Regions from separate parts of the Homo sapiens genome. Here region 1 is linked to region 2. Evidence: fine-mapped QTL for protein levels in blood plasma. A gene starts in region 2. The other region holds a variant in brackets. All regions are shown on one strand. Distances are from middle to middle.

Region 1 (3,034 bases), 54 kb before region 2:
TCTTCTCTATGCTGTTTATTCTAGTTAGCCATTCATCTAATCTTTTTTCAAGGTTTTTAGCCTCTTTGCAATGGATTCGAACACTCTCCTTTAGCTCAGAGAAGTTTGTTATTACCGATCATCTGAAGCCTTCTTCTCTCAGCTTGTCAAAGTCATTCTCCATCCAATTTTTGTCCATTGCTGGTGAGGAGCTGTGTTCCTTTGGAGGAGAAGAGGCACTCTGATTTTTAGAATTTTCAGCTTTTCTGCTCCGGTTTCTCCCCATCTTTGTGGTTTTATCTACATTTGGTCTTTGATGATGGTGACGTACAGATGGGGTTTTGGTGTGGATGTCCTTTCTGTTTGTTAGTTTTCCTTCTAACAGTCAGGATCCTCAGCTGCAGATCTGTTGGAGTTTGCTGGAGGTCCACTCCAGAACCTGTTTGCCTGGGTATCATCAGCGGAAGCTGCAGAACAGCAAATATTGCAGAATGGCAAATGTTGCTGCCTGAACATTCCTCTGGATGCTTCATCTCAGAGGGGCACCCAGCTGTATGAGGTGTCAGTCGGCCCCTATTGGGAGGTGTCTCTCAGTTAGGCTACTTGGGGGTCAGAGACCCACTTGAGGAGGCAGTCTGTCCATTCTGAGATCTCAAACTCTGTGCTGGGAGAAGCACTACTCTCTTCAAAGCTGTCAGACAGGGATGTTTAAGTCTTCAGAAGTTTCTGCTGCCTTTTGTTCAGCTATGCCCTGCCCCCACAGGTGGAGTCTACAGAGGCAGGCAGGCCTTCTCAAGCTGCAGTGGGCTCCACTCAGTTCGAGCTTCCTGGCTGCTTTGTTTACCTACTCAAACCTCAGCAATGGCAGACACCCCTCCCCCAGCCTCACTGCCACCTTGCAGTTCGATCTCAGACTGCTGTGCTAGCAGTGAGTGAGGCTCCATGGGCATAGGACCCTCTGAGCCAGGCATGGGATATAATCTCCTGGTGTGCCATTTGCTAACACCATTGGAAAAGTGCAGTATTAGTGTGAGAGTGTCCTGATTTTCCAGGTACCGTCTGTCACAGCTTCCCTTGGCTAGGAAAGGGAGTTCCCTGACCCCTTGCCCTTCCAGGGTGAGGCAATGCCCCACTCTGCTCCGTGGGCTGCACCCACTGTCTAACAAGCCCCAGTGAGATGAACCTGGTACCTCATTTGGAAATGCAGAAGTCACCTGTCTTCTGCATCACTCACGCTGGGAGCTGTAGAATGGAGCTGTTCCTATTTGGCCACCTTGGACTGTTTTTTCCA[TA/T]CTTGATTTTTGTATATTGAGCTTGTAAATCCTGCAACCTTGCTGAACTCATTTATTAACTCTATTTTTTATTGTTTTTTTTTAGAGTTTTATTTTATTTTTTAAAAATAGAGATGAGTCTCACTATGTTTCCCAGGCTGGTCTCAAACTCCTGAGCTCAGGTGATCCTTTTGCCTCAGCCTCCCAAAGTGCTGGGATTACAGGTGTGAGCCACCATGCCCAACTCACTTATTAGCTCTAATAGAGATTTTTTTGTGGGTTCTGTAGGGTTTTCTATATACAGGATCATGTCATCTGCAAACATGGTTTTACTTCTTCCTTTCCAATCTGGATGGCTTATATTTATTTTCTTTGCCAAAGTGACCTGAATGGAGTCCCCAGCACAATGCTGAGTAGAAGTGTTGAGAACAGACATCCTTATCTTGTTTCTGATCTTATGGGGAAAGATTTTACTCTTCTGTTATTATGTATGATGTTATCTGTTAGCTGTTCATACTATTGTTCGTAGTATTTCCTTATAATCCTTTCCCTTTCTGTAAGGTCAGTAGTAATGTCATTTCTTCTATTCCTTATTTTAGTAATTTGGAGGATGTTTCTTTTTTTTCTTGATTATTCTAGTAAATGTTTGTCAACCTTGTTGATCTTTTAAGAGAACCAACTTATGTTTTGTCTATTTTCTCTACGGTGTTTATATTCTCTATTTTCTTTACTTTTGCTTTTATCATTATTATCTCCTTCCTTCTGTGAGCATTGGGTTTAGTTTGCTCTTCTTTTTCTAGTTTTTAATATGGAAGGTTAGATTTTTTAAATTTGAGAGCTGGTAAATCCAACATCTGGATTTCTTCAGGGACAGTTTACATTGACTTCTTTTGTTGTGTTTTATTTTATTTTCCTGTGTAGATGCCCTAATTTTTGTTTCTTTTCATGTCCCATAATTTTGGTTAGAAACTGGACTTTTTTTAAAAATTATACTTTAAGATCTGGGATATATGTGCAGAACGTGCAGGTTTGTTACATAGGTATACATGTGCCATGGGGGTTTGTTGCACCCATCAACCTGCCATCTACATTAGGTATTTCTCCTAATGCTATCCCTTTCCTAGCCCCCCACCTCCTGGCAGGCCTCAGTGTGTGATGTTCCCCTCCCTGTGTACATATGTTCTCATTGTTCAACTCCCACTTAGGAGTGAGAACATGCAGTGTTTGGTTTTCTGTTCTTGTGTTAGTTTGCTGAGAATGATGGTTTCCAGATTCATCCATTTCGCAGCAAAGGACATGAACTCATCTTTTTTTATGGCTGCACAGTATTCTATGGTGTATATGTGCCACATTTTCTTTATCCAATCTATCATTGATGGGCATTTGGGTTGGTTCCAAGTCTTTGCTATTGTGAACAGTGCTGCAATAAACATATGTGCGCATGTGTCTTTATAGTAGAATGATTAATAATCCTTTGGGTGTATACCCAATAGGATTGCTGGGTCAAATGGTATTTCTGGTTCTAGATCCTTGAGGAATCACCACACTATCTTCTACAATGGTTGAACTAATTTACACTTCCAGCAACAGTGTAAAAGCGTTTCTATTTCTCCGCATCCTCTCCAGCATCTGTTGTTTCCTGGCTTTTTAATGATTGCCTTTCTAACTGGTGTGAGATGGTATCTCATTGTGGTTTTGATTTGCATTTCTCTAATGAGCAGAGATGATGAGCTTTTTGCTTAAGTTTGTTGGCCACATAAATGTCTTCTTTGTGAAGTGTCTGT
Region 2 (2,500 bases):
TTGAATAATTTTCCTTTTTTGCATTCCATGTCCATGATCCATGGCCCAGTTATAGGCATGAGGACCCCACCCATGGTCTCTCATCAAACCCCTTTTCACTGATATGGAAGGCGATTAGTTGGTGATTTTGTAATGTGTATGTGAGATGAGGAGCTAGTTGTATGTGAGATGAGGAGCTAGATTAGTGGTTTCCAAAATTTATTCTTTGTATTTCTGAGATATGTGTGTGGGAAGAATGACAAGAAGTCTCTTGTCTCTGATTCAAACTGAAGGTCTCTGATTTTGTCGATAAATTTGCCTTCCCTATATTCTTTTACTTGGAAAAATATTTTCACAGCTCATTAGATGTTTTAGAAACACAGTATTTTAAGATCTTGATATGCTGTGCAGTTCCGATAGCCTATAAAACAAATAGTGGTTTTAAAACATATCCTCAAATTATTTTACACTCTTCCCATTAAGAGGTATGACTATGTTCCCTAACCTTGCACCTGGGATCCTTAAGCCATCATGCAAAATATCTAGCCATGTGGAGGGACCACTGGAAAGATCACACACACACACACACACACACACACACACACACACATACAGAGAGAGAGAGAGACACCTGAGAAATTCCATCTGGTCCAACTGCTGGCTGTTGAAGTCCTCCCAGCCCAGACCCCAGACACTGAATGAAGGCCTTGTGATATAGTCAAGAGCAAAAAAACCCAGAAGATTGTTATTGTTTTAAGTCACTGTTTTCAGATAGATTGCTATGCAGCAATAGATTATTGAAATAGACACTACAATTTTAGGTACTATTATTCTAAGAATATTGAATTTTATTTTTCTGCTAATGTTCTATTATTTTACTTTTCTCTGGGTTTTAGAAAGCCACCAGGATTTAAGACAGTGAAGAATCTTTGAGTCCTTTGTAGAGTTGAACCAAAGTTTGAATGTCTCTTTGTGGACTCGTGTCCTAGGGATACCACTCCAAAGGGAAAAGGGGAATATCCCTTACATATCTTTGACTTTGGTATCCCTGATTCCTTCCTTTTTCTATAGAATGTGTCTCATTTCAGAGAAACTGGTCTCTTGATAATAGCCATAGATTACATACTGTGGTCTTCCTCTACATAGACCCTACCTCACCTACCACTCCTGGTCTTAGCTGAAAAACAGGCTAGCCTCGACTCATACTGTCATTTCCTATCCTCCCACTGAAGTGCACTGGCTCAGCAGATTTATTACTCCATAGATTTATTACTCCATTCTATGATTCATCCTCTCTGCTTCCTATAAAAGGCAGAGACAGAGCTTCCAGAGGAGCAGAGGGGCTGAGACCAAACCAGAAACCTCCAATTCTCATGTGGAAGCCCATGCCCTCACCCTCCAACATGAAAGCCTCTGCAGCACTTCTGTGTCTGCTGCTCACAGCAGCTGCTTTCAGCCCCCAGGGGCTTGCTCAGCCAGGTAAGGTCCCTCTCTCCTTCTCCTTGAAGCACATTGCCCCCTCTCTGGGTTATCCTGGACCAATCAAGAAGACCTGATACCCACAGTCTCACTTTAACAGCTACTTTTCCAAGATAAGGTAACTTAGAAAAAGGATAAGGGGTGAGCCCAACCACACAGCTGCTGTTGGGTAGAGCCTGAACTAGAATTCCAGCTGTGAACCCCAAATCCAGCTCCTTCTAGGATTCCAGCTCTGGGAACACCCTCAGTGCAGTTACCACTCCAGCTGCTTCCAGCAGAATTTGGGATCAGGGTGATCAAAGACAGGAGGCTTCTGGGGATGGGTGTGCGGGCTGTTTCCAGATACCGGGAGACCCAGAATCTGGTCTGTGGAAGCCCAGCTTCCAGAAACAGCAGCTCTGCAGAGGTGGTACGTATCAGGGAAACTCATGACCAAGCATTGAATGCTCAGAGCCTAAAAGGGGATCCATAGTTGGGGTACCCTTGCTCTAAGGAATTGGATTATTATATTAGCCCCTCCTAGCAATGCCCAGAGTAGCCATCAATTCCTCTTCCGTCTTTCAACTGGTGATGGTGCATCCCTATTTCACAGTCCATAAAAGTGAAAGGGAGTTTATGAAATGCCTCAAAGGGCAGAGACATTGGGTTTGGGATGGGCAGCTTTTCCCTCCACCTCTTCCTTTCTTTCTGATTCCTTCTTCTTACCATTCCCTGTTTTACAAACAGAAAGACCCAGGACACACCCTCAATGGACTTTTCTTCTTGTTGTTTCATTGCAGTTGGGATTAATACTTCAACTACCTGCTGCTACAGATTTATCAATAAGAAAATCCCTAAGCAGAGGCTGGAGAGCTACAGAAGGACCACCAGTAGCCACTGTCCCCGGGAAGCTGTAATGTATGTGGACGATGACCACCCACCCCTCACACCTCAGTCCTAGGTTCTTCCCTGGGCAGGGAATAGGACTAGTATCAGAATGAGTTGGAGTCAAATACTGTGATGCATACAGCATCTCTAACCTTATCCCAGACATTTGCCAGTG

Direction of the effects. Positions count from the first base shown, and alleles are read on the strand shown. Strength reflects both the effect of a copy and how common the allele is.
For the plasma level of the protein whose gene starts at base 1,313 in region 2, TA is the low allele of the variant in region 1 and T is the other (weak association).

What was found. A credible set is the group of variants that fine-mapping cannot tell apart. PIP is the chance, under the fine-mapping model, that this variant and not a neighbour inherited with it causes the effect. The UK Biobank Pharma Proteomics Project read protein levels with antibody pairs (Olink). The fine-mapping took linkage between variants from a reference panel, not from the people measured, so its PIPs are less certain.
Region 1: its variant is the best candidate, but not a certain one, in a credible set for the plasma level of the CCL7 protein (UK Biobank, PIP 0.51).

What each region holds. Positions count from the first base shown.
Region 1 is chr17:34,214,607-34,217,640 of GRCh38, forward strand. No RefSeq gene overlaps it. Among named protein-coding and RNA genes, the nearest start is that of LINC01989, 32 kb to the left of the region's middle. The variant TA/T (reference allele first, on the strand shown) is at 1,271.
Region 2 is chr17:34,268,909-34,271,408 of GRCh38, forward strand. CCL7 (C-C motif chemokine ligand 7) reads left to right here and starts at 1,313. Exons shown (of 3, transcript NM_006273.4): 1 at 1,313-1,458; 2 at 2,238-2,355. The coding sequence starts at 1,383.